4 linked regions of the Homo sapiens genome follow. The protein of the gene in region 3 interacts with the protein of the main gene of each other region in a pairwise test. Each region holds a gene or a part of one and is shown on either strand. Other genes may lie near its edges.

The links.
Region 1: the proteins of PLN (region 3) and SIT1 interact in binary tests that used the Homo sapiens proteins (3 or more experiments, as listed by UniProt).
Region 2: the proteins of PLN (region 3) and LDLRAD1 interact in binary tests that used the Homo sapiens proteins (3 or more experiments, as listed by UniProt).
Region 4: the proteins of PLN (region 3) and MGST2 interact in binary tests that used the Homo sapiens proteins (3 or more experiments, as listed by UniProt).

The regions. Positions count from the first base shown.
Region 1 is NC_000009.12:35,648,795-35,655,636, reverse strand, and holds SIT1 (signaling threshold-regulating transmembrane adapter 1 precursor), read left to right. Parts: upstream 1-4,705; 5' UTR 4,706-4,783; coding exon 4,784-4,883; intron 4,884-4,999; coding exon 5,000-5,135; intron 5,136-5,221; coding exon 5,222-5,280; intron 5,281-5,391; coding exon 5,392-5,453; intron 5,454-5,555; coding exon 5,556-5,789; 3' UTR 5,790-6,342; downstream 6,343-6,842. UniProt on the Homo sapiens protein: Negatively regulates TCR (T-cell antigen receptor)-mediated signaling in T-cells. Involved in positive selection of T-cells.
Region 2 is NC_000001.11:54,015,187-54,022,135, reverse strand, and holds the start of LDLRAD1 (low-density lipoprotein receptor class A domain-containing protein 1), read left to right. Parts: upstream 1-3,949; 5' UTR 3,950-3,959; coding exon of another isoform or gene 3,960-4,023; coding exon 4,024-4,044; intron 4,045-4,708; coding exon 4,709-4,760; intron 4,761-6,949.
Region 3 is NC_000006.12:118,551,269-118,558,302, reverse strand, and holds part of PLN (phospholamban), read right to left. Parts: intron 1-7,034. UniProt on the Homo sapiens protein: Reversibly inhibits the activity of ATP2A2/SERCA2 in cardiac sarcoplasmic reticulum by decreasing the apparent affinity of the ATPase for Ca(2+).
Region 4 is NC_000004.12:139,661,172-139,668,828, reverse strand, and holds the start of MGST2 (microsomal glutathione S-transferase 2), read right to left. Parts: upstream 3,011-7,657; 5' UTR 2,810-3,010; coding exon 2,752-2,809; intron 1-2,751. UniProt on the Homo sapiens protein: Catalyzes several different glutathione-dependent reactions. Catalyzes the glutathione-dependent reduction of lipid hydroperoxides, such as 5-HPETE.

The sequences.
Region 1 (6,842 bases), on a different chromosome or scaffold from region 3:
TGTGGTGGCCAGCACCTGTAATCCCAGCTATTCAGGAGGCCGAGGCATAAGAATAGCTTCAACCTGGGAGGCGGAGGTTGCAGTGAACAGAGATCGCGCCACTGCACTCCAGCCTCAGTGTCAGAGCAAGACTCCATCTCTAAATAAATAAATAAATAAATAAATAAATAAATAAATAAATGAAATATGGGTGTGTCTTCTTGTTTTTCCTGAAAGGAGGAGGAAGGGCAGGACAGGGAGAAACCCTCACCAAGGGGAGTTATCATAGTGTAGTTCAAGGGTCCCCAACACTATTGGTCCATGGCCTGTTAGGAACTGGGCCGCACAGCAGGAGGTGAGCAGCGGAGGAGCAAGGGTGAGCGGCGGAGTAGCGAGGGAAGCTTCATCTGTATATACAGCCACTCTCCATCCTGGCATTACCGCCTGAGCTCTGTCTCCTGTCAGATCAGTGCAGTGTTAGATTCTCATAGGGCCACGAACCCTATTGTGAATTGTGCATGCACGTGATGTTGTGGGCTCCTTATGAAAATCTAGGCCAGGTGCAGTGGCTGATGCCTGTAATCCCAGCACTTTGGGAAGCCAAGGTGGGTGGATCTCTTGAGGCCAGGAGTTCAAGACCAGCCTGGACAATATGGTTAAAAAAAAAAAAAAGTCTCTAATAAAAATACAAAAATTAGCTGCGCATGGTGGCGCATGCCTGTAATCCTAGCTACTTGGGAGGCTGAGGCATAAGAATTGCTTGAACCCAGGAGGCGAGGTTGCAGTGAGCCAAGATTGCACCACTGCACTCCAGCCTGGGTGACAGAGCGAGACCCTGTCAAAAAAACAAAACAGAACAAAAAAACCACAATACCTGATGATCTGAGGTGGAACAGTTTTATCCCAAAACCATCCCCTCCTCCCATACTCCTGTGCATGGAAAAATTGTCTCCCACAAAACCTGTCCCTGGTGCCAAAACGGCTGGGGACCAGTGGTCTAGCTGATGACCCAGTGACAGCCTGGGTACGCAAAGCAGGGTAATAGAAATCTTGAATCTAAGCCAGTTGGCACAGTCGGTGTAAATAAGGGGTTCAGGCCAGATATAATAATGATAAGTGGTCCCCAACTGATTATTGCCTTTAGAGAACTCAGGGCACTATTGCCAGATCTTTTTTTGAAGGAATCAACAAATTAGAATTTTAAAAATTTGAAATCTCCCAATTTTTAACTGTTGACAAGGAATCAGTGGCATACTTAGCATATTTGACACCAAGTGGTCTTTGTGTGTGTGTGTGTGTGTGTGTGTGTGTGTGTGTGTGTGTGAGAGAGAGAGAGAGAGACAGGGTCTCCCTCTGCTGCCCAGTCAGGAGTGCAGTGGTGAGACCATGGCTCACTGCAGCCCCAAATTTCTTGGATCAGCCTCCTGAGTACCTGGGACTGCAGGTGCACACCACCATGCCCAGCTAATTTGTGTGTTTTTTTGTTGTTGTTTTTTGTTTGTTTGTTTGTTTGTTTTTTGTAGAGACCAGGGTATTGCCCAGGCTGGTCTTGAACTTCTGGCCTCAAGGAATCTGCCTGCCTCAGCCTCCCAAAGTACTGGGATTACAAGTGTGAGCCACCTTGCCTGTTCCGGATCATTTAAAAAACATTTTTCTTTCTTTTCTGTCTTTTTTTTTTTTTTTTTTTGAGACAAGCTCTCACTCTGTTGCCCAGGCTGGAGTGGTGCAGTGGCACAATCATGGCTTACTGCTGCCTCTATCTCCCAGGCTCAAGCAATCTTCCCACTTCAGCCTCTTAAGTAGCTGTGACTACAGGCACACATGCCCCCATGCCTCGCTAATTTTTTAATTTTTTGCAGAGATGGGAATCTCACTATGTTGGTTAGGCTGGTCTCAAACTCTTGGGCCCAAGCTATCCTCCCACCTCAGCCTCTCAAAGTGCTGTGATTACAGGTGTGAGCCATCACACCTGGCCCAAATTTTTCTTTCTTTCTTTTTTTTTTTTTTTTTGAGATGGAGTCTTGCTCTGTCGCCCAGGCTGCAGTGCAGTGGAGTGATCTTGGCTCACTGCAGCCTCCACCTCCTGGGTTTAAGCAATTCTTGTGCCTCAGCCTCCAGAGTAGCTGGGATTACAGGTACCTGCCACCATGCCCGGCTAATTTTTGTATTTTTAGTAGAGACGAGGTTTCACCATGTTGACCAGGCTGCTCTCAAACTCCTGACCTCAGGTGATCCACCCACCTCAGCATCCCAAAGTGCTGGGATTACAGGCGTGAGCCACCATGCCCAGACCCAAATTTTTCTTGTTTTCTTTCTTTTTTTGGGGGTGGGGGGCAGGGTCTCACTCTGTTGCCCAGGCTGGAGTGCAGAGGCTTGATCTTGGCTCACTGAAACCTCTACCTCCTAGGCTCAAGCAATCCTCCCACCTCAGCCTCTCGAGTAGCTGGGACCACAGGCGTGCACCATCACACCTGGCTAATTTTTTGTATTTTTGGTAAAGACGGGGTTTTGCCATGTTGCCCAAGCTGTTCTTGAACTCCTGGGCTCAAGCGATCCTCTTGCCTCACCCTCCCAACGTGCTGGAATTGCAGGCATGAGCCACCATGCCTGGAACAAAGTTTTATTTTTCAAGTGGATCATTTAAAAAAATGCTTTATGGCCAGGCACGCCACTTCTCTCCAGCCTGGGCAAGTGAGCCGAGATTGTGCCACTGCGGTCTGGTCTGAGCGACAGAGGGAGACTCCATCTCAGATAAATAAATAAATAAAATTAAAACAAATTTAAACATTCTTTATATGACAAAATTATTCTCAATGGCAATTATAAAATGAATAATAAGGGCCAAGAAATAAACTCAGTGAATATTTTCTTTCCTTGAACTTTGTAAATATAATCATGTCAGCATAAAAACAGCCATGCATTGCTTAACAACAGGGATATGTTCTGAGAAATGAGTCACTAGGCAATTTTGTCATTGTGCAAACATCATAGAGTGTATTTTCACAAACCTAGATGGTGTAGCCTATTACCCATCTAGGCTACATGGTATAGCCTGGTGCTCCTAGGCCCCAATGCTTACAGCATGTTACCATACTGAATACTGTAGGCAGTTGTAAGACAATGGTATTTGTGCATCTACTGTAGAGACAGGGTCTCTCCGTCTGTCGCCCAGGCTGGAGTGCAGTGGCATAATCATAGCTCCCTGCAGCCTCCAACTCCTGGGCTCAAGTGATCCTCCCACCTCAGTCTCCCAAGTAGCTAGGACTACACGCTTGTGTCATCAGGCCTGTCTACTGTTTTTGTTTGTTTTTTGGTAGAGATGGAGGGTCTCACTATATTGCTCAGACTGGTTTTGAACTCCTGGCCTCAAGCAATCCTCCTGCTGCCTTGGCCTCCAAAGTGCTGGTATTACAGGAATGAGCCACTGCACCTGGTCCACTACAGCAATTTAAAAGTTAGATCTGGGCTGGGCGCAGTGGCTCATGCCTGTAATTCCAGCACTTTGGGAGACCGAGGTGGGCAGGTTGCTTGAGGTCAGGAGTTGAGACCAGCCTGGCAACACAGGGAGACCTATCTCTACAAAAAATGAACTAGATTAGCTGGGTGTGGTGGCACATGCCTGTAGTCCTAGCTGCTTAGGTGGCTGAGATGGGAGGATCACTTGAGCCCGGGAGATCGTCAAGGCTGCAGTGAGCTGAGATTGTGTTACTGCACTCCAACCTGGGAGACAAAGTAAGACCCTGTCTCAAAAAAAATATAAAACTTAGATCCATAAAATATTTTTCAGGGAGGATAATTTTATCACTGATTTTTTTTTTCAGAATTTCTGGAACATGGTGATAATAAGAGGACTGATTTTTATTTTTTAAATTCTCTACAGACAATGCACCCCCTTATTGCCTGCAACTCAAGGGGCAGGACTTCTGCCATCCCTATTGTTGGCATGCCACTGCACTGATTTTAAACTTTTAAAAAATGTTGTATGGGCTAGACAAAACACATCTCTGACTTCTGGTCTCAGGTTTATATTTGCAACTTAAAATCCCTCTTCCTACATCAATAGCCTTGCACGTGATGGAGTTAGCTCTAGGTATGGCAGGTACTACACCCGCTGAAGTGAACATGTGCAAGATAGGGCTCAGTTTCCCAGGACAGTCCTACAGCAAAGAGTTTTAAAATGCAATTAATTATTGAGAGTGACAGTTCTTACAGACAGTTTGGATGAAGTGGGTTGAAAGGGGAGGTTTGGGGGTGTCCCCCAAATTATAATGCCCCCAATGAAACAATAACAAGCATCATCTAAACACATATCCTCTCAGATCAGCCTTAGGGTGTGATGGGATCAGAGGTACCAGGAGGCTCCCCCGACCCTTCCACTTTATACCATACTCATTGAGGAATACATCTTTCTTCTGGGACCAGAGTCAGGGAGGAAGGTGGGCATCCTGGAGCAGAAGGGGTGTTCCTGTCCTTGTTAGTCCTGCTTCACACCACTTCTGCCCCCACCCCCCGCCCTCAGAGTCCTCAGGGACTCAACTGCCCGTGGCACATTACCCACAGGCCTGCTTCTCTTCTCAAGGGGGGCAAAGGGCCTGGGCAGCGAGGGTGGGGGAAGCTCAGGAGCTGCAGGAGTGGCGCAGGTGCAGGCACAGGGCGGGGTCTTTGTTCTTTTTTTCATCCCTCCCCTCCCCCTTCCTCCCCGGAAACCAGAGACTTTGCCACCACCAGTATTGGGGATGCTGAGCTGCGGGGTACGGGCCTGAGGAGGGATGGGAGTAAGAAGTGCTGTGGAAACCGTCAGGCCATGAACCAGGCTGACCCTCGGCTCAGAGCAGTGTGCTTGTGGACTCTCACATCTGCAGCCATGAGCAGAGGCGACAACTGCACGGATCTACTCGCACTGGGTGAGCTGGGCAGGGCAGGGGCTGGTGGGGGAGGGGTCATGTGGCCCCAGGTCCCACCTGCTGGGCCCTGGGGGTGGGGCGGGGCTGTTACACCCCCCTTCCTTTCACATCCACAGGAATCCCCTCCATAACCCAGGCCTGGGGACTGTGGGTCCTCTTAGGGGCTGTGACGCTGCTATTTCTCATCTCGCTGGCTGCACACTTGTCCCAGTGGACCAGGGGCCGGAGCAGGAGCCATCCGGGGCAGGGACGGTGGGTGAAGGACAACAGGGATGGGTTGACTGAGAGTTCTCTCTTACCGAGAAGTCCCCACTCATCCCCTAAACTCTGCGTTGCAGCTCTGGAGAGTCTGTGGAAGAGGTCCCGCTGTATGGGAACCTGCATTATCTACAGACAGGTAGGGAGCTGGCAGAGAGGAGGGGCACAGAGGCCAGGTCCTGGGTGGCTGGGATGGGGGCGTGCAGGAGGAAGGACAAGTTGCTGACCAGATTCCTGTTCCCCGTCCCAGGACGGCTGTCTCAAGACCCAGAGCCAGACCAGCAGGATCCAACTCTTGGAGGCCCTGCCAGGGTGAGTCAACTGTGGCTGGAGAAAAGGGGGAGGGAAGGAAGTGGGGGGCTTTTCGGGCTTTTCCGAGGGTCCAGTGAACTTCTAACAGCCTTGCATCTCCAGGCTGCAGAGGAGGTGATGTGCTATACCAGCCTGCAGCTGCGGCCTCCTCAGGGTCGGATCCCCGGTCCTGGAACCCCCGTCAAGTACTCGGAGGTGGTGCTGGACTCTGAGCCAAAGTCCCAGGCCTCGGGCCCCGAGCCGGAGCTCTATGCCTCAGTATGTGCCCAGACCCGCAGGGCCCGGGCCTCCTTCCCGGATCAGGCCTATGCCAACAGCCAGCCTGCAGCCAGCTGAGATGGAGGGCCTGGCACAGCGGGGCGTGCACTGCCCCAGCCCCCCGTAGCAGGGGCATGACTGTTTCCCAACCAGCACCCAAAGACGGGCGCCATTGCCAAGTCACAGGATGTGATCTACCCCGGACTTCCTATCTGAGCTTCAAGGGAGACATCTCAGGGCAAAGCTTTCGTGATGGAGGAGGCAAAGACAGTAGCCCCCTCCTTATTTCTTTTTTCTATCTGTTCCTCTTAGCCCCCAAACTCCCAGGTTCTCACTTCCTTCTTCTGGAGTTTAACCAGATCCTCCCCACCCCCGCTCCCTCATAGTCTACCCCCACGCCTCAGTGTCTCCTCAGGCACAGGAAGTGGGCGGTGGGGGAGGGGTAAGGGCCTGACAGTGGGTGGGTGGGTATATTCCTCAGGAGTCCACAGACTGGAGTGGACCTGGAACTTAGAGACGGGAGGGACCCGAGCCTGGCTTTTGACCTAAGAACCCTAGCAGGAGAATACAGTCTCCATCCTGCTGTCTCTGTCCTGTCCCCAAGTTTTCAAATAAAACTTTCCAAAAAGTGTTTAGATTTTTACCTAGAAGGCTGAAGACTTGCAAAGGGCCCTGCAGATGGGGGTGTGAGCTTTGCTGTCTGCACGGAGCTCTTTCTGGGGGTGCCTAGCTGGGGATGAGGGGCCAAGAGGGGCTGCGGCATCAACAGTGCAGAGGTGGGCACCGGGGTGGAGGGCCAGAGCCCAGCTCCTCAGCTGCTGTTGCTGCTGCTAGAACACCCCTGGGATCTGCACTCAGAGCCACTGCATTCCCCCTGGGGCTGCAAGCTCACAGTCCTGAGCTACTCTCCCCTTGACCTCTATAACTGCCATCACCTCCACAACCTGCCAGCCTGGTTCCTTCATCAAGTCCTCCAATCTGACCTCCGTCTGTCCGCTATGAGTCCCACCTATACCCCTGTTTTGACATCAGTAGCCTTATCTGCACTTAGTCATCGTATACCCCTAGAGGCCTTCTCCTTACCCCATCACTATGGCAGCGGTCCATCTCCACTCACTCTCTCCCACTCTG
Region 2 (6,949 bases), on a different chromosome or scaffold from region 3:
TCACACCTGTAATCCCAGCACTTTGGGAGGCCGAGGTGGGCAAATCACGAGGTCAGGAGATCGAGACCATCCTGGCTAACACAGTGAAACCCTGTCTCTACTAAAAATACAAAAAATTAGCCGGGCGTGGTGGCAGGCACCTGTAGTCCCAGCTACTTGGGAAGCTGAGGCAGGAGAATGGCGTGAACCCAGGAGGCAGAGATGGCAGTGAGCGGAGATCGCGCCACTGCACTCCAGCCTGGGCAACAGAGTAAGACTCTGTCTCAAAAAAAAAAAAAATTGAGGCTGCACGTGCCAATGTCCCTGAGGCCATCTGCTGCTGTGGAAGGAGTGCTCGCTGTACTGGGACACTGACCACGGTATGGCCTTGCACAAGTCCCCTCTTCTTTCCGGACTTTAGATCCCCCTTCTGTAAAGTGAGGCCGTTGTTCTCTCTGAGCCTGAGGTCCCTTTGACTCTGCTGATCAAAGTTCTGAGTTTCCCTGAGGGACTCTGGCAGCCCTGTTTTCCACTCTTTCCAATTTCCTCCTCTAACCCTCATAATATGGGCACCGCCTTAAGCTGCTGCTAGAACTCTCCATCCACCACTCACCATTCTCCCTGCTTTATTTATTTATTTATTTATTTTGAGACAGAGTCTCACTCTGTCACCCAGGCTGGAGCGCAGTGGCACGATCTCGGCTTACTGCAACCTCTGCCTTCCGTTCGTTCAAGCGATTCTCCCATTTCAGCCTCCCAAGTAGCTGGGATTACAGGCGTGGGCCACCGTGCCTGGCTAATTTTTATATTTTTAGTAGAGACAGGGTTTCACCATGTTGGCCAGGCTGGTCTCGAACTCCTGATATCAACCGATCCACCCACTTTGGCCTCCCAAAGTCCTGGGATTACAGGTGCAAGCCACAGTGCCCAGCATCTCCCTGCTTTAGAATGAGACACATCTGAGGTTAAGCAAAAGAGGACTGCAAATCCTAAAGGCGGCGAGCCACTGATGGTATTTCACAGTTGTCAGGCTGGAGGAAATCAAAAAGTCTGATGGTACTAAGTGTTGACAGAGATGTGATCAACAGAAATTCTCATCCACAAGGGAGGGAGTGTGAATCAACTCTGCTTGGAGGCAAAACTGACCTGGGTTAAAATCTCTGCTCTGCTGTTTACCCACTGTGTGGCTTTGGCAAGTTACTTAACCTCTCTGAACCCAGTTTCTGCATCTGTCTAGTGGGTGTAATAATATTACCTATCTTTCAGAGTTGTTGTGAGGATCAAGGGAGAGGGCGTGTGTAAGGTGGCTGGTGTAGTGCCTGGAGCATAGTAGCTGCTCAATAAATAATATCTGCCTCCCTTCCATCCATGCCCTCCCCTTGAGAGTGAGACTGTGAATTGCAGGGGATATGATTCCAGGAAGTTCAAGGATTGAGGCACCAGGGCCTGTCCTTCATGTCACCAGGCCCCCTGCTGCCCTTCCCTCAAGGGTTCTTGGTGACAGCCTGAGCCCTGGAGAGACGCAGTGCTTTCAGCATAGTTGTATGTGGCTGTACCTGGACTCAGCAGATGAAAGGGCATTTCAAAGCCCCGGGGAGTCTTTTTATAAAGGAACACTTAAGAATCACGGAGTCAAGGAAGGCCAGAGGCTGAAGGGCATTAATATGTCCAGGAATGGCAAATGGTCATTGTCAGGCCTCTGAGCCCAAGCTAAGCCATCATATCCCCTGTGACCTGCACGTATACATCCAGATGACCGGTTCCTGCCTTAACTGATGACACTGTCTTGTGAAATTCCTTCTCCTGGCTCATCCTGGCTCAAAAGCTCCCCTACTGAGCACCTTGTGACCCCCACTCTGCCCGCCAGAGAACAACCCCCCTTTGACTGTAATTTTCCTTTATCTACCCAAATCCTATAAAACGGCCCCACCCTTATCTCCCTTCGCTGACTCTTTTCGGACTCAGCCCACCTGCACCCAGGTGAAATAAACAGCTTTATTGCTCACATAAATCCTGTTTGGTGGTCTCTTCACACGGATGCGAGTGAAAGCCATCATGTCTGATACCCCTCTCCACTCTTACACCCATGGCAGGCATCACTAGTCAATCACAGTTCTGACCTCAGAATCCTTCTGAGGCCCATGTTCCAGAGAGCCTTTTGCAATCAATTGCAGCTGACATGCCAGATAAAATCTAGTTAGTGTCTTTAGTAGGGACCATGGGTGCCCTGCCCATGCTATCAGCGCTTTCCATTTCAGGACATATTAGCTTAGCGTGCAGCTGCTAAGTTGCCATCACTGACATCTCCTTGCCTAAGGCAGCCCAGTGGTACAAGGAATTAACACCCTCTGGCTAGTCTCTTTTTTTTTGAGACGAAGTTTCGCTCTTATTGCCCAGGCTGGAGTGCAATGGCGCAATCTTGGCTCACTGCAACTTCTGCCTCCCAGGTTCAAGCAATTCTCCTGCCTCAGCCTCCTGAGTAGCTGGGATGACAGGCGCCTGCCACCATGCCCGGCTAATTTTTTGTATTTTTAGTAAAGACGGGGTTTCACTATGTTGGCCAGGCTGGTCTTGAACTCCTGATCTCAGGTGATCCACCTGCCTCGGCCTCCCAAAGTGCTGGGATTACAGGCATGAGCCACCATGCCTGGCCTCCTCTGGCCATTCTCAACCAAGACTGGCAGGAGCTGGCAGATTATTACCCCAGTTCCCCTCACCTTGAGTGGGATAACTCTGAGGGGCATCTTCTCCCCTAGCTTCCCCGAGTGCCCCAGCAGGGCTAAATTCCACTTGCCCACAGCGGAAACCTGCTTCATAACACGACTGTTATCGGATCCTTCTCTTCCATGTCTCATTTCCCTCACCCCCCGACCAGCATTTCCTGGGATCACTCCCAATTAACTCTACTTGCCCTCAAATCTTGTCTTAGAGTCTGATTCTGGGGAACCTTAAACTAAAACACCCCCTTCATCTAGCTTATATCTTTATTTTCTGGATGAAGGAACTGAGGCGCAGGGAAGGGGAGTGAGTCACCCGTCAGAGCCAGTGGTAGGGCCCTAATGAGAGTCCTGTTCTCCCGGCCTAGGGCTCAGCTCTTCACAATGTTACTTGCTGCCTCCCAAGGGCTGCCCCTGTGTCTGTGCCTCCTACTTGCACCCACGTGGATTCATCATTTTATTTCCCAATGCAAAAGAAAAGGCTGATTGCAGGTTGGAAAATCTATGGGCATCAGAGGCAGGTGCAAGAACTCCTGAGCTCATTTCTGGAGGTAGACACCTCTCCTCCCTTGGTCCGGGTCCTTGGACCTGTCCCTCAAGATTCCAGGGCCTTGGTTTACTCAGCAGTGGGACAGGCTGCTAGGGAAACCCACTCACTGGGGACATAGAAGGGGTTGTTCACGCAAGCAACCAGCCCCCCGCCTCTTCCCTACCTCAGCACCACCTCAGGGGCAGTAAAAATTCACATTGCCACGTTTCTAAATGAAACAATTTAAAATTATATTTGCTTTATAATTTTAGTGGAAAATGCATATTCTTTCAATCTAGGTCACCTATGTAGTTGAACAGAAGAACATCAATGAGAAAATGACCCCTACTTTCTAGCCACCGAAACGTCAATTCTGGGAGTTTCTGCCTGCATCTTCATACCCCTGGAACCTGAGCTCCTCCGGTTCCATCTCTGATGTGGAGGAAAATGCACTTTCTGAAAAGTTTCTGGGTTTCACTCCTCCCATGCACTGTGAGACTTGGGGCAGTTTCTCCCTCTCTGAACCTCTGGCTCTTCATCTGTGGAATAGGGATGAGGATTCCAGCCTCGCAATGTTGCTGTCAGATGGCAGATGAGGGAATAGCCTGGCCGGAGAGGGGCCCTCCTGCCTTTGCCTCTGCTTGGAAGGCAGCTGACAGGGGCCTGCCCACAGGGAGGGTGTGGCCCGGGCAAGGCCTCCTGCTTGTCCCTCCTCCAGGTTGGCCTTGGTGACAATGCAGGGAACCCGTGCTGAGCTCTCTGCACACAGCCCCAGTCGGGCAGCAGGAAACCGAAGACATGAACAAGGTCTTCCCCCAGGTGAGAGCTGTCCCCAGGTGAGAGTTGTCTCCAAGTAAGAGCTGTCCCCAAGTGAGAGCTGTCCCCAGGTGAGAGCTGTCCCCAGGTAAGAGTTGTCTCCAAGTAAGAGCTGTCCCCAGGTAAGAGCCGCCCTGACCAGGCTCCTGATCTTGGGAGAGCAAACCTTGGGATGAGGAGTGGGCAGTAGAGAGTGGGCATACATGGGAGACACGGAGGAAAATCAGCCCCCGTCCTGCCCCGGGGCTCACTCCCAGGGTGTAGGGGACCCTACCAATGACCCAGCAATACAGTCCAGGTGGCAAGTGCTGGTATGGAAACAGAGGAGCCAGGTGGACAGGAGGGAAGAGCGGCCAGTTTTACTGGGGAGGAGGGTATCAGGGAAAGCCTCACCCAGGAGTCGCTGCCCAAGCCGGTTTGAAGGATGAATATTTATCAGGTGGACAGCAGAGAAAAAGGCTTTCCAGGCAGAGGGCACAGTGCAGGCAAAGGTGTGGACATATGAAGCGGGCATGATGCATCTGGGGCGTGAGATGCTGGGGTGTGACGGACCCGTGGTTCTACCTAAGACTCTCTCAGTGACCCCTCTGAAAACCCTGTTGTCTGCCTCCCTGAGGCTGGAGCTCACCTCACCTAAGCCCACCCCTCACTCTGTTCTCTTGGGCAGGGAGAGAATGGCTACACTGCTGCTGAATCCAAAGCCCACCCTGGAGGGGAAGGTAAAGAACTGGAGGGCCTGGGGCCAGTGCCCTGTGGGGCTCCCTTGAAGCTGGCAGTTGGCGATAGAGACATGAGGAGGGTTCAAGGCTCCCACTGTCCCTCAGACCTCTGCCTCCATGTTAACGTTGTCTGCTCCCAGCTTCCTGGCCAGCCATGCTGACAGTCACTTGCTTAATAGGGTTATTCATTCTCTCCATGCACATGCATTCATTAAGCACCTACTGTGTGCTGCCTACCTCACAGGCACCAAACTGCATACAGTGCCCACCTGTAACACAGAGAAAAGAGCACCAGCGTCAAATTCTTGACTCAGTGGGTGACCTGGGCAATTCTCTTTAACTCTGATGGATAAAGTGACACATTTATTTAGCCCTACTATGTGCCACTGGCCCATGGTGTGACCAGGACAGTCCTCTTTACCCTTCTGAAAATAGAAGAAGGAAGAAACACACATGTACTGAGCTTTGCATATGCCCTGGCTTGGCCCACATTTGATCAATGACGAAACACACTCAGAGAGGTAGATTAAAATACCAGCTATAAAGAATCCATCCCCAGTTAGGTGCCTGGCACTGCATGATCTCTTTAATCCTCAGGACAGCTCTGAGACAGGGGCCCTGTTATGGGGCAATAACAGATGAGACAGCTGAAACTAAGAGAGGTTGAGTAACCAGGCCAAGGTCACACAGCAGGGAGGTTGGAGGGCCAGGGTTCAAATGTGAACTGAGGTCTCTCTGGTTACAAAGCCCCAGGGCTTTTGTTGCTCCGAGCTGGTGTTTGTTTATTTCTAAGTCCTGACTCATGATGGGCGGGGTTGTGGAAAGAATCACCTCCTTTTCCTCATCGGTACAGGGAGAGGACTGGCACCTAAGGGCTTTCTGGCTTTGAAGTGCAACAGCTTCACCTGGGCAGGAGCCTTGGTTCTGCGGGTTCTCCCATGGCCCCACCTTGTGCATGGTCTGTGCTGCACAAATATTTGAGGAGCTGCTTGGCTGATCAGGACACCTCTCCCTGCCCAGAGTCACGCTGCCTCCCTGGTTACCTGAGTTTACCCTGTTTGCTGATGGCCAAGGAGCCACCAACTAGGGCTGTAGGGATGACAGGTTTTAGATTTATGCTGCCTCTCCTGCTATTGTCTCCCCTCCCAATACACATCCATCTTGGAGTCCCACCACCCCAGGCCATTTGTGCTCCCCCACCTGCAACCACTGGGCCTTTACTCCTGCCACGCCCTCTGCCTGGAATGCCCTCTCTTTGCACCCTCCCCTTACCTGCCTGTGGAAATCCCATTCTGCTTCTGAGGACACTGCATCAGAAATGTGAATGGATTGGAAATAACCTGGACTGACCCATACTGGGGGCCTTCTCTTGCCTCCTGGACCCCCAGGTCGGCATATTCACAGAGTGTTCACAAAGCCCCAGGCCGGTGTGGTGGCTCACACCTGTAATCCCAGCACTTCGGGAGGCCAAGGTGGGCGGATCACCTGAGGTCAGGAGTTCAAGACCAGCCTGGCCAACATGGTGAAACCCGTCTCTACTAAAAATACAAAAATTAGCCAGGCATGGTGGCGGGCGCCTGTCATCCCAGCTACTCGGGAGGCTGAGGCAGGAGAATCGCTTGAACCCAGAAGGCAGAGGTTGCAGTGAGTTGAGATCATGCAACTGCACTTCAGCCTGGGCAATAGAGCAAGACTCCGCCTCAAAAAAAAAACAAAAAAAACAAAAAAAACAAAAGCCCCCACCACGTGCCTGGCTCTGGGCTGGGCCCTGGGGTCACAGGGATGAATCACACCTGCTCCTGCCCCTTTCTCTGAGGTACCTGTGGCCTGGGCACGTCAGTAGCTCCCACACCCCTTCAGGCATGTCCATGCCTTGCCTTCTAAGTGCAATAACAAGCTGCAGAGGGCAAGGACCAGGGCAAGCTGCACAGCAGGGCACCCAGGAGGTCCTCAGTAAAGCCTTCTTTTATTATTTTGTAAGCAGGGGAGAATTAAAGGAGAATTAAAGTACAGTTCTACAAGAGCAGGGACGTCCCCTATCACTGCTATCTCCATAGTGCTTAGAATAAGGCTCGGCACATGGTAAGTCCTCAATAAGCAATAACAGGCCAGACACAGTGGTGCACGCCTGTTGTCCCAGCATTTTGGGAGGTTGAGGCAGGAGGACTGCTTGAGCCTAGGACTTATAG
Region 3 (7,034 bases):
AGAGAAATATGAACTATGTATACATTTAAGAAAGATTAATAAAAACCAGATAGGCCAGGTGCAGTGGCTCATGCCTGTAATCCCAGCACTTTGGGAGGCCAAGGCGGGCAGTTCCCCTGAGGTCAGGAGTTTGAGACCAGCCTGGCCAACATGGTGAAACCCTGTCTCTACTAAAAATATAAAAATTAGCTAGGCTGGTGGCATGTGCCTGTAATCCTAGCTACTTGGGAGGATCGCTGGAGCCCAGGAGGCAGGGGTTGCATTGAGCCCAGATCATGCCACTGTACTCCAGCCTGGGTGACAGAGCAAAACTCTGTCCCAGGAAAAAAAAAAAAAAGCCAACAAAGATAATTACCCAGTATTTGGTGAATCAGTGAGTAACAGTGGTTGTGGTGGTCTATTAAAAACATGGAATCATGTTTGAGAAATGAAAATTGTCAGGAGCACATCCAGCTCCATGCAGATCAAAAACAATTCAAATACGGTGGGATCTCTGAGTGCTTTTGTGCCATAGCGTTTATTGTCATGCATTTGTATGATCACCGTAGACTTTACCAATTTTTATTCGATAATAATTTGTATTCATCCATTCATTCATTTTTCAACCCTCTTATTCTGGTTTGGGGTGCTGGTGGCTGGAGCCAATCCCAGCAGCTCAAGGAGGGAGGAACCCACCTTGGATAGGAGGCCACTCCATCACAGGATACACTCATGTACACACTCACACTCAACCCAGGACAACTTAAACATGCCAGTGAACCTAATGTGCACTGTTTTGGGATATGGGAGGAAACCAGAGTCCCACAGATGTGGGGAGAATATGCAAGCCCCACACATACTTAAATGTTATAACAAAATGACATAGAAATGATGTTATTTGAGGACCTGCTGTATTTGGTTTAAGGTACAGCTTGTTTTGGGTTATTCTTTTGGGTAAAAGTTCTAACATATAGTTTCTTTAAATCTGTTACTCTGTAGATGTAATTGGTTTGATCAGTCACTGTATTAATAGCTCCAGAGCCAATCTCATAAAAAGGAAATGCATACAACAAATTGTTCCCTGGATCTTAATTTTAATCTAAAATAAAATAGTGTTAAATGGGAAGTGTTTTACCAAAAATATAGATTCAAATTGTTATTCCTTTTTATGATTTTATAGTTTTATAGAATGTTATCTTAAGTAACATTTTAATAAGATTTGATGTTAAGTACTGAAGACTGTCAAGCTTGGAACACATAGTAATTATTATTATCTCACTACCACAGACATATCCTATTTACAGACTTCTACTTAATAGTAGTAGTTTCCATCATGCCTTCTTTCAGAGATCCCACAAGCTATTGCTGCCTGTGGGGCCTATACTTTGATGATTAATAAAATAAGAATTTACATGTCATTACAGAAAAATTATATATAGACTGAAAATTAACTGTATTAACTGTCCAGAGATAATCGTTATTAACACTTGGGGACATTTTGTTTTCAATCAGTATACTTATGTGTCAATTTTGAAATAAGAAAAATGAAAAACGGAGAAAAAAAGTCAGTAATTAACTGCCAGACATAGTGACTGTTAACATTTGTTGATATATTATTGTTAATCAACATATTACTACCTTACCCCAGGTGTCAGATTTTATTTTCTCCTAAGTCCTTTTATACATCCCATAAAAGCCCATCTCAACCTGTTAGCCCATTCCTGAGAGAGGAAAGTGCTGAAGGGAGCAGAAGGAAGTGCTGAAAGAATGGCAAAGGGGAAGGTAAGTATCAGGCATGACTAGTTAGAACCCGGCATTTACTTTGGCAAAGAAACCATATGGTTTATGGTGTTTAGATTCTGTAGTGTTCAACTTGGGTCTATTATATTCTGAATTATATAGTAGACTGGGCATTTTTGGCTTGAGACTCTGTCCCCCTTCATAATATTGGTCTGTAGCAAGGAGTTCCAAACACTCAACTTCTATCAAATTTTCTTTCCTTAAAGAGTTATTAACTACCTGTATTTTTCTAGCATATATTCTTCATTGTCTAAACAGGTGGCTAAAGGCTGTTATTTAGGTTGTCTATAACACTTCTACTTAGAAAATAGCAGCTTATAAAAGCAGAACTACCATTCGACCCAACAATCCCATTACTGGGTATATATCCAGAGGAGTGTAAATCTTTCTGCCGTAAAGACATACACCCATGAATATTCATTGCAGCACTATTCACAATAGCAAAGACATGAACCGGCCTAAGTGCTCATCAGTGACAGACTGGATAAAGAAAATGTGGTACATATACACCATGCAATACTATGCAGCCATAAAAAAGAATGATATCATGTCTTTTGCGGGAACATGGATGGAGCTGGAGGTCATTATCCCTAGCAAACTAACATAGGAAAAGAAAACCAAATACCACAGGTTCTCACTTACAGGTGGGAGCAAGATGATAAGAACTTATGAACACAAAGAAGGAAACAACAGACGCTGGGGTCTACTTGAGCGGGGAGGATGGGAGGAGGCAGAGGAGCAGAAAACTGTTGGGTACTGGGCTTAATAACGGGATGATGAAGTAATACATACAACAAGCTCCCCATGACATGTGTTTACCTGTGTAACAAACCTTCACACATACCCCCAAACTTAAAACAAAAGTTAAAAATAAGGGACATAGCAGCTTAAACTTGACATATATTTAATGACTTTTGTTTGAATTCTTCAGGTAAAATATAAATAGATTTTCTTTTGTTCTTTATTGAGATTCATCCTTTAAGTTGCTTATGTTGATATTTGCTTATGTTGATATTTGCTTATTGTAGATCTAGTGGATTGGAAAATTATGGGAAGATTTTATTTATATTTGAGTAGTCACTTTTTTTTTTTTTTTTTGAGACAGTCTTGCTGTGTTGCCCAGGCTGGAGTGCAGTGGCACGATCTCGGCTCACTGCAAGCTCCACCTCCCGGGTTCACGCCATTCTCCTGCCTTAGCCTCCCGAGTAGCTGGGACTACAGGTGCCCGCCACCATGCCTAATTTTTTTGTGTTTTTAGTAGAGACGGGGTTTCACCATGTTAGCCAGGATGGTCTCGATCTCCCGACCTCGTGATCCACCCGCCTCGGCCTCCCAAAGTGCTGGGATTGCAGGCGTGAGCCACTGCACCTGGCCGAGTAGTCACCTTTTATGAAGATGTGTAGCAGAATACAGTTAAGAAAGGAATAATAATTAGACTTGGTAATTCCTATTTGAACATATGGTTTTGTGAGGTTTTTGGGCTTAAGTGGTCTTAAAAGGTCAGAAATTTTAAAAATTATTTTGAGACAAAACATGGGAAAGGAGGGAGTTGGCCAGGAGTTTATCATGAAGCATATACAGGAGTCATCCCCTACGTTGACACTGGTAAGTTGTACTTCAGTCACATGAAACATGTCACCTTTCCATAAATACTCCATTCCCTTTTGTGATTTTGTTCTTTGCACATGTTGTTCTATCTCTGCCTGGAATGTGTTCTCCACCTTTTGATTGTCTGCCATGCAAGCTTCAGTTGATTCTTAAGGTTCAGTTTAAATATCACTTCCTAGTGAAACCTTTCATTAGTTATTAAGGTGGAATTGGTTGTCACCTCTACTGGTTTTTAATAGGGCTTTAGTGTTATCTATATGAGGATATCTGTCAGATTATAGCACAATTTCAATTTACATGTTTGTATCCCCAGCTAGACTGATAGTTTCTGAAGTAAAGAAACTGTGTGTTTATTTAGTATCCTAGTACTTAGTGCATAATTGGTATGCTTCAATAAATCACTAAAGTTAAATAAGGGATTTTTATGACTAAAACTATTAGAAAATTGTTAATTAAAAATAATGCTGTGGGCAGGGCATGGTGGCTCACATCTATAATTCCAACACTTTGGAAGGCCTAGGCGGGACGAATGTTTGAGCCCAGGAGTTCGAGACCAGCTTGGGCAACATAATGAGACCCCATCTCATTTTTAATTAATTAATTGTTTTTATGAATGGATGAATGAATGACTGACAGGGTCTTGCTCTGTCACCCAGGCTGGAGTGCAGTTGTGCAATCGTGGCTCACTGCACCTCAACTTCCCAGGCTCTAGCGATCTCCCTGCCTCAGCCTCCTGAGTAGCTGAGACCACAGGTGTGCGCCACCATGCCTGGCTAATTTTTGTATTTTTGGTAGGGACAGGGTTTCACTGTGCTGCACAGGCTGGTCTCAAACTCCTGAGCTCAGGTAATTCCTGGGATTACAAGTGTGAATGACCATGCCTGGCCCTCATTTTTAATAATAAGTTAAACAATTTTAAAAATAATGCTGTGATTGACAGATTAACTAGTTCTAATAACAATTTGTTAGTTGGACATGTAAGCTCTAATATTTTCCTCAAGTCTCTTTCTATCACAGGTGAGAAAAATGAGGCTTAGAGGATTCACCTAAATTAATGGTTACCTGATTAACACAGTATTAACCTGAACTAGGCTTTGTATAAATGGGTTTTTAGTATTTGTGAAATACAGAGATATGCCCTAAAGAGATGAGCTCTTTACTGTTTAAAGCATAGTTAACATACTTTAAAGATGATCTTATAATCCTACAACAGCTAACTGTTATTGAAAAAGAAGAGTTTGTTTCTGGAAACAAATTGGGTGTAAAGGAGATGACCAAAAATAGTATCCTGTTTCTTGTCAGATTTAGAAATATGCCATAATCCTAAAGTTATTTGTAACTACTTTATGATTTTATGCCTAAACTTAAATCTGCTTTACACGCTAAAATGTTAATGATATACATTTAATTTATTGGGCTCAATTTTTTACAGTTATCATCTGAAATGTGTGGAATCCTAGTTCTACTGAATACCAACATTTGTATGATGATAATTAGGCCAGATTTTATCCATAGAAGATGGGGCTTCCTGTCATACATTGAGAATTGAAAACCTTTGTTGTGGGAACAGCAGAATCCTATTTTTGGAGTTGTCTGTGACCTTTACTACATTATAATTTATGGCATGGTTGTCAGATGTTTATCATTCTCTTCTCTGCACTGACAACCACTGTATGAGTTTCCTTTTTTTTTTTTTTTTTAATTTCTTAACAGCTAAGCTGTTTAATAGAGTACTTTTTCGATGGAAAGCATACAAAAATAGTTTAGTTTTATTTTCATGTTATCTGATCTTTTTAGAGCATTCTGTTAGTCTAATCATAAATAGTTTTGGGATTTTCTGAACTTGTATATGGCCTAAACAACCATGGAAACTGAAGCTGCTCTCCACCCTTTTATTAAAAGAATGACAATATATATAAATTGGTTGTTTTGACACAAGAGTGGTATTCATTTATAGATGAATTTTAAAATCAAATTGTCTTCTAGGCCCTAGAATCAAGAGTATTGAAAACATGAAAGGTGCTTGTTAGGAGTTTGGGTGTAGAAATGCCAGACTCCTGTCTCTTGAGTTACATGTCAGAGGCAGGAAAGTATCCACAGAGTATCTTATGTCTGTGGATCCATGATTACTCTACTTTTTAGGGGAATGAGAAGAATAAAAATAAAGAATTCTTTACTATTCTTTGTGGGATTTATAAATCCTTTGGTTGTCGTCCTTTCCTCAAGAAAAGTAACGCTGGAAATTAAAAAAAAAATCAAGTTCAAGATGGTATTCTGGTTTTTTTTTTGAGGTGGAAGAAGGAAATAGAAAAGCCATTAGGCAACTCTAATCTTTTGACTAATGTCATATACCATGTTAGGCAACATGTTTGGTGGAAGCTACTATATATCAACTCCTTCAGGAGTCCTTACTTTGTCTGCAGTGAGTCCTGTTTTAGCAATGTAATATCAGATGCATTCTTGTGCGGAAGGAACCTCAATAGTCTTCTGAAAACTTTTGGTGGCCTGCTTTATGACTTGCTAGACAATTGATACTTTAATGATGTTGTATATGCTGAGCATTAATCTCCATCTATACTTTAAGTATGTTCACTTCTTGCAGAACTTCTCAAACTTCAGTATTTTTGGTGGTATTCCTTTTGCTGAAATAATAAATTCCTGGGATTCTTTATGTTTGTAGAATTTAGAATTTTGCTTTTCTCCTTTTAATTTTGTTTATTCTTTTAGTAAACATGGGAGTACTGAAGAAATACTTTATTAAATTGAATTCAAGTAATATCTAAGGCTACAGTCTGATATACTCTAGGATGTTTTTTCCATCTAATTGGTTTAGAAGATTAGAATTTTCTATAGATTGAATAAACAGGACTTGTCTATATTTGGATTGTTTGGAATTTTATTTTTCTACTACTTTCTGACATTTCCACTGATAAGCCATAAGTGAATGTGCATATACCCTTTTTTGGACTTGTGGTAATAAATTAGGACAGTTCATCATTAGATTTACGATGAATCTGTTGGCTTACAAAAGTTCACTCCAGTGGAGTCATTTTCCTTTTGAGATTGCCTAATACTAAACTTGGACATTCTATTTGAAGTTACTTTGTGGTAGCAACATTCCAGAGCTTTGTTGGTCCAGACTGGCTGTTTGAAAGAATCTTCAAGCTGCTTCTGTCTGGTTATGAAAATAATTGTATATGCATAAAAATCAATATATTCTCATTCCTAAATTGACCCATAATGAAGTGCTTCTCATGTTAAAGCTCTGTCTTGAGGAGAATTCATTAAACAACAGCACAGAGATATTTTTCTCTCTAAAACTGACAATTTAGCTTATTGCTGTTGCTATATTGTCTGTAGGTTTGCCTTCATTATTGTTTTTTAAATATTGAAACAATGCTTTACAAGTGTATTTACAAGTAAAATATTCTTCTTAACCCTGTAGGAGTTGGAAATTCAGAATCTTTTCTGGGGGAAGAGAATATGGGGAGGTAGTATTGAGAAAGTCTTAAGGATTTAAAATGAATGCCACTTAATAAATATACCCCCTATTAATGTGAGTGAGTTAGTCAACCTTTTTTTTTGTGCGGGGGTTGGGGGTTGAAAACTAAAGATGGAGTACCTTTTCAAAGGCACTAGAGGTCCTC
Region 4 (7,657 bases), on a different chromosome or scaffold from region 3:
ACCTGAACATAAGAACATCTTATCAATATCCTCCAGGGCAGCAAGCCATACTGCCCAAAACCCTCCTGCCCATACCTGTACATACCCCAGCCTGTAAGCAATGGCGGGCTCTGGCATTAAGCTGGTCCCCCACCTCCACAGGTTTTTGTAATAAACCTGTGTTGTTGTAAAGCCTCTCTCTCTCTCCCTCTCCCCCTCTACCCCCTCCCCCTCCTCTCTCTCTCTCTCTCTCTGTGTCTTTCTTGAACCCCACCTTCCCTTTAAAAAATCTAACACTTAAGACTTTTTGTAGAAATAAGACACCAAATTCCAGCCTGACTCCAGTATAGCATCACATGACAGATAGCAGGCCTTGAAAGAAATTGAAGTATTTTACCCTAAAATATATTTCTTTGTCATATTTTGAAATGGTCCTGCAAAGTTGTCTCTTGTGGGGAAAGTCTACATTCTGTAGAAAATCCCTTTCCCTTGCCAGGTCTTTTCTCTGATCCAGGAGAGAATTAACAGAGTCTGGCACCTTTTCAAGTCTCATAAGAAACATTTACAATCTATTCTCTCCAAACGCTGCTACCTGGAAGCTTCATTTGCATAGTAAGAACCTTGGCCTCCACAACCCCTTATCTTAACCCAGGCACTCCCTTCTATGGATTTGAGGTCTGTAGATAAACTCTTTTAATCAATTGCCAATCAGAAAATCTTTAAATCCACCTATGACCTGGAAGCCCATGCCCCACTTCCAGTTGTCCCGCCTTTTGGGACCAAACTAATGTACATCTTACATGAATTGGTTGATGTCTTATGTCTCCCTAAAATGTATAAAACCAATCTGTAGCCAGACCCCTTTGGGCAGATGTTCTTAGAATCTCCTTGGGCTGTGTCACCGGCCACTCGTCCCTCATGTTTGGCTCAGAATACAGCTTTTCAATTATTTTACAAAGTTCAACTCTTCATCAACATCTTTTTTTTTTCTTTGAGATGGAGTCTCGCTCTGTTGCCAGGCTGGAGTGTAGTGCTGTGATCTCAGTCCACTGCAACCTCCCCCTCCCAGGTTCAAGCGATTCTCCTGCCTCAGCCTCCCTAGTAGCTGGGACTACAGGAGCGTGCCACCATGTCCAGCAAATTTGTGTATTTTAAGTAGAGACGGAGTTTCACCATGTTGGCCAGGATGGTCTCGATCTCTTGACCTCGTGATCCACCTGCCTTGGCCTCCCAAAGTACTCGGATTACAGGGGTGAGCCACCGTGCCCGGCCCTAACACCTTGTCATTAAACATTCCCTGTCCACCATTAATCATCATTCACCCAGTCTCCTCTCCTCTCTCCCCACCCCTACCCCCACTCCATCCAGCCCCCTAACATTCTGGCCCCAGTTCACACAGCCCCCTGCACAAGCAGCAAACAGGGAGGATGAGCACCTCTGTCAGCTTTGGGACATCTGTGGACCTGCAGGCCTAGGATAAAGGCGCATGCAGGTTTGGTAGCACCTGTGAGTCAGGATGCTACCAACAGTGAGCCTTAGACCTGCTAAATTAGGTTTAGCCTAAAGCTGCCTTCTGACATATTTTAAGTTCAGCCTAAAGGTTTCTCCGTACATCGTGAACTATATGCTTCCGTTTTCTGGGAGTCGCTTTCCTTTTTCTGTCCATAAATCTTCTTCTACCACGTGGCAGCCCCAGAGTCTCTCTGAACCTATTCCGGTTCCCCATGCCCAACTGTGAATCGTTCTTTGCTCAATTAAACTCAGTTAAATGTAATTTGTCTAGGGTTTTCCTTTTAACAGATCTAAGTGCTTCTTTAATTAGAAACAAATATCCTGCTCTTCTCCACAACAGATTGTGTGAATCAAACCACAAAACGTGAGTCTGAAGGTTCAAGATCTTCATACAATCTCAAAACAGACTGGCTAGGCAAGACATTGAGCATGCACGGAGGCCTGGACTGGATCCTCAGCTGTGAGGCCTTCCTGCTTCTGGCTGTTTGTGTAACCTGAGCAGTCTACGGCTTGGCCCTATTTCCTGGTACAGGCATACTTGGAAATATAAAGAAATATGCATGCTTGGTAAGAAGTCTTGCACTCTTGCACTCGGACCCCTTTCCCCAGCTGACATTGTAGGTAAGATAATATGAATTGAGCAAATGTGACTCCCATGGAGTAAAAGCCCTCTATTTAACCAGGCAGTCGAGATATTGAATAATCCTAGTGGGAAGCTGTTTTAAAATTTAGAGCTAATTACTTAATCTAAAGCTAATATTTCTGAAGGAAGTTTTTTTCAATCTGATAATCATACCACCATAGGCAGTTTATTTAAGAAAACACATTAATTAAAACATCAACGTTCAAGAAATCACAACCAGGTTTAGAAGCAGGCACGTTTCCTTTGGAACACTTGTAATTAATATTCACACCACTTCCTGCAGGTTAGCAGGCTACTAACGCTCGTTTGAACGGGCTGTGGGTCGTAATCACAGATGATGCAGAATCGCTGAGCTCTGAGGCCCCACAGCGTTCCAGTTGGGAGAACTAATCTCTGGAATGTTCTCAGTCTCTGCTTGCCCCTGGGAAGGAGGGTAGCAGGCGGCATGGGTGACCCTGAGGCGACTGTGCTCTGAGGACCCAGAGCTACCTGCAAGGGCAAGTAGGAAACAAAACACCGGACCCATCTCCCTCCCTCCCTCTCTCTCCCGCAAGCCTTGTCACACACACACACACACGCACACACGCGCACACACACGAACTTCCCATGCCTCTTACTTTGCTGACAGGCCGAGAGAATAGAGACAGCAGCCAGCAGGATCGAGTTCCCGGCCATCTTTCTCACGGAACTATTTGTAGAGCGCACGGGAAGATAAATGGCGCTTCTTGACTTTGAATGCTGACCTTCCTTATCGGGTAAACAAAGTTGGGGACCGGGTGGGGGGAAAAGGCTGATTCAAGCGGCTGAATGACCTTTGCTCTGGAACAGAAGTCAGGAAGGCAGGCAGGTCTGGGGCTGCCGGTCACAGATCTTTATGGGGCTGGGAGTTGCTTCCGGCGTTTGTTTTAAGCCTCTCCCACGGCCAGCGGGCAGGGCTGTAGCTCACTGTGGGACCAGCCCTCCAGCCGCAGTGCCAGTTACACTATCTTCTCTGCCAATGCACAGACTCTCTGGATCCCTTTCATCCCCACGCCCTTCCCTCCTAGGGCCTTGCTGAGACCTTTCTCACCTCCTGTGGAAAAAGTGAGAAGGAACTACTTACTTAATCCTGTTGACATTTTAAATGCTAATTTAAGCCAGTTCTAATGTATTCACGCTCTGAATGGCCGATTTAGGATTTGAACCCAGTCTAGCAGATTACAACTGTGCCCTATCCCCTGCACCAGGCTGCCTCTCACTGTCACCTAGAGACTCTGATAATAATCATACTTTTTTTTTTTAAGACAGGGTCTTGATCTGTCACCCAGGCTGGAGTGTGTGGTGGCACGATCATAGCTCACTGCAGCCTCCAACTCTTGGGCTTAAGTAATCCTCCTGCCTCAGCCTCCCAAGTAGCTAGAACTACAGCCACAAGTCACTGTGCCCAGCCATTTTTAAAAAAATAAACCGGCCGGGCGCGATGGCTCACACTTGTAATCCCAGCACTTTAAGAGGCCAAGGAGGGTGAATCACGAGGTCAGGAGATCAAGACTATCCTGGCTAACACAGTAAAACCCCTTCTCTACTAAAAATACAAAAAATCAGCTGGGCATGGTGGCACGAACCTGTAGTCCCAGCTACGCAGGAGGCTGAGGCAGGAGAATCTGCTCTTTAGAGATGCAGATTCTGGCCTGGAAGGATGGCTCATGCCTGTAATCCCAACAGTTTGGGAGGCTGAAATGGGCAGATGGTTTGAGCTCAGGAGTTCGAGACCAGCCTGGGTAACATGGCAAAACCCCATCTCTTAAAGAAATACAAAAATTAGCAGGGCATGGTGGCACGTGCCTGTAGTCCCAGCTACTTAGGGGGCTGAGGCAAGGGGATTGCTTGAACCCAGGAGCCTGAGACTGCAGTGAGCCAAGGTCGTTCCACTGCACTTCAGCCTGGGTGACAAAGTGAGACCCTGTCTCAAACAAATAATAAAAATAAAGATGCAGCTTCCCAAAAACCAGAGCTGGGGGCCTTTCCTCACCCCATCCTACAGCACCATTAGAGGGTATATCTTGGCTCAAGCTGCTATAACAAAGATACCATAGACTGGGTGGCTTACAATAGCAATTTATTCGTCACAGTCCTGAAGGCTGGGAAGTCCAAGATGACAGTGCTGGCCAATCAGTTCCTGGTGAGGGCCCTCTTCCTGGTTTGCAGAAGGACACCTTCATGTTGGAGACAGAGAAAGAGTAAGCTTCCTGGTCACTTCTTATAAGGGCACAGATCCCATTATGGGGGCCTATGCTCATAACCTCACCTGTAGCTAATTATCTGCCAAATGCCTGATAACATCACGTTGGGGGTTAGGGTCTCAACATATGAATTGCAGAGGGGACACAAACATTTAGTCCCTAGCAGGGAGCTCCCAGTGTCTTCTGGGGAGGGCAGTTGCCTCAGCCTCACACAGACCCTACAATTTAATAACACAACCTTGGGCCTCTCTGAGCCTCCATTTAATAAGATAGGGCTAATAAGAGCTGAAGAGAAGTTTAAATGACATAATCCTATTCTAAGGATTGAATTAGTTAATACTTATAGAGCACTTAAAACAGCACCTGGCATATACAAATGTGTTCTGTGTGTCTGCAAAATAAACACATAAAGTATCTAGACAAGTACTTAGCATATAATGTACCTAATGTTAAAAAATACTTTCAGAGGCAAAAATCATGCCTTTCATACAACATAAAATGAAAACATATCAAAATTTTTATGTAACTCATTCATGAGGGAACCAGTAAGATGTTATAACCAGTTCAAAGTAGAATTCATGGAACTACACATATACAGGAAAGAAGGAATAACAAAATTAATTTATAAATAGTTGCAAGCCAGGTCTGCTCAAAGTTTCTGTTGGTCTTCAGGCTTCCTTGGCTGTTTGCTCTTGAAATCATTGACAACTAAGATTAGATAAGAAAGTAGAGCCAAGAAGCTGGGGCAGCACCAAAACATTCTTGTATACTCAGTTTAATAGTTTTGGGCTTCAGTACATGGCAGAGATTCTAAACTGCAAACTAGCTGCCCTGAACCCATATCACCATCTACTATAATAACCTCCCAAATGACAGATCTCGAAGGAGAGGTCTACATTAGGCCTGGGGACAGGCAGAGGCTCTCAAAGTCAGAGAACGGCTCGGGAAGAGAGGAACAACAGCAGGAGGAGCTGAGCAGAGAATTGTGGCCCTGGCTGATGACTGTAACTTTTGGGTGTTGGTAACTCTTATTTTGAGAAACTCTTGGGTACACCTGTACTAGTCAACTGGTTTAAAATCTACAACTTCCGGCCGGGCGTGGTGGCTCACGCCTGTAATCCCACACTTTGGGAGGCCGAGGTGGGCGAATCACCCGAGGTTGGGAGTTCCAGACCATCCTGGCTAACACGGTGAAACCCCGTCTCTACTAAAAATACAAAAAAATTAGCCGGGCGTGTTGGCGGGCGCCTGTAGTCCCAGCTACTCGGGAGGCTGAGGCAGGAGAATGGCGTGAACCTCGAAAGCGGAGCTTGCAGTGAGCTGAGATCGTGCCACTGCACTCCAGCCTGGGTGACAGAGCGAGACTTCGTCTCAAAAAAAAAAAAAAAATGAAACTTCCCAGCTTCTGGACAAATCCTGAGGTTCCCTACTGACTTCTCCCAGCCAATCTTAAGTCAGTCCCCCAAATCCAGATTCTAAGAGATGGTTGACACAAAGTAAAAAAATAAAAAATCAATTAATCAATAAAATCTCAAGTGCTTCAAAACCCCACGTGTCTATTTAAAAAGATCTTCATTGTCGGTATATGTAGTTATTGCCTCTAGGAAAGTATAAAAGAATAGAGCATTGTATAATGAAATGTTTATCACCTTCTGCAGTGATAAAATTTCCAGGTGACCCACAGCTGAAATACTGCCATAGCATTAACAAAAACTCACAAAAATTAGAGTTTCTCTGTACGTTTTCCCTGGATTGGTTGAAGAGGAATGGCATTTTCCCTGAATGTTGTTCCCATAGATCCTTCTAGTATGTTCCATTTATTACATTTTTCTATGAAAAGGAAAATAAGAGGACAAACAGCATACTGGTAATTGCTATGGTCTGAATGTTTGTCCCCTCCAAAACTCATGTTAAAATTTAACTTCCATTATAATGGTATTAAGAGGTAGGACAATAAGGGGTGATTAGGCCATGAGAGCTCTGCTCCCATGAATGGATTAATGTTGTTATAGGAGTGGATTGTTATAAATGTGAGCTTGGCCCTCTCTTGCCCCCCCGCTTTGGGATGACATAGCACAAAGGTCCTTACCAGATGCCAGCACCTTGATATTAAACCTCCTAACCTCCAGAACTGTGAGAAATAAATTTCTTTTCTTTATAAATTACCCAGTGTGTGGTATTCTGTTATAGCAACAAAATGGAATAAGACAGTAATGATAGTAAAATGTTTTTAAAATATTTTTATTATCTATGTAAACTCAAAAGAAACCTAAAAGACTTTCTGAGGACTTTGGTTACTACTGAATCACTGTTACCAAAACTATACTCTAGGTAAGGTGAAACAGAGAGGCCAAGATTTGATCACATAAAAACAAACCTGAACCATGTAAAAGAACTGCTTTCATGAAATGTGAACTCTAAATGTAACTCTTTCAGTATAATTTTGGTAATAGATGAAAAGAAATGATATATTAAACTATAGAAATGTTTTTCCTCAGCCGGGCATGGTGGCTCACACTTGTAATCCCAGAACTTTGGGAGGCCAAGGTGGGTGGATCACCTGAGGTCAGGAGTTCAAGACCAGCCTAGCCAACATGGTGAAACCCCATCTCTACTAAAAATACAAAAATTAGCCAGGCATGATGGTGCACATCTGTAATCCCAGCTACTGGGGAGGCTGAGACATGAGAATCACTTGAACCCAAGAGGTGGAAGTTGCAGTGAGCCGAGAATGCGCTACAACACTCCAGCCTGGGTGACAGAGCTTGCTCTGCCAAGCTCTGTCTCCATCTCAAAAAAAAAAAAAAAAAAAAAAAAAGGTTTTTCCTCAAACCAATTGCAACCCCCGCAAATTATTCCCTGGTCTCACCCTCTCTGTTCACTTGCTACCCTTCCAAAATTGACAGCACATCATCCAGGTTTCTGCTGAGCACTACAGCAGGGCTGTCCTCACTGCCATCAGGCCAGGTAGCAGAAAGAGACAGAAAATACACCTCTTTCCCAGGAACTATCAGAGTGATCATGATTATCAATGACCACATAACTCTCCATGTACCCAGAGTTCATTACATTATCTTGCTAGAAGTCCTGACTAGTTGAAGAATCTTGTAACTACACAGCAGTTTTTCTGTGTTTTGTTTTGTTTTGAGACAGGGTCTTACTCTATCACCCTGGCTGGAGTGCAGTGACATGATCATGGCTCACTGCAGCCTCAACTTCCAGGGTTCAAGCAACCCTCCCACCTCAGTCTCCTGAGTAGCTGGGTTTAATAGTGGCTTTAACACAGTAAGTTTTTAAGCAA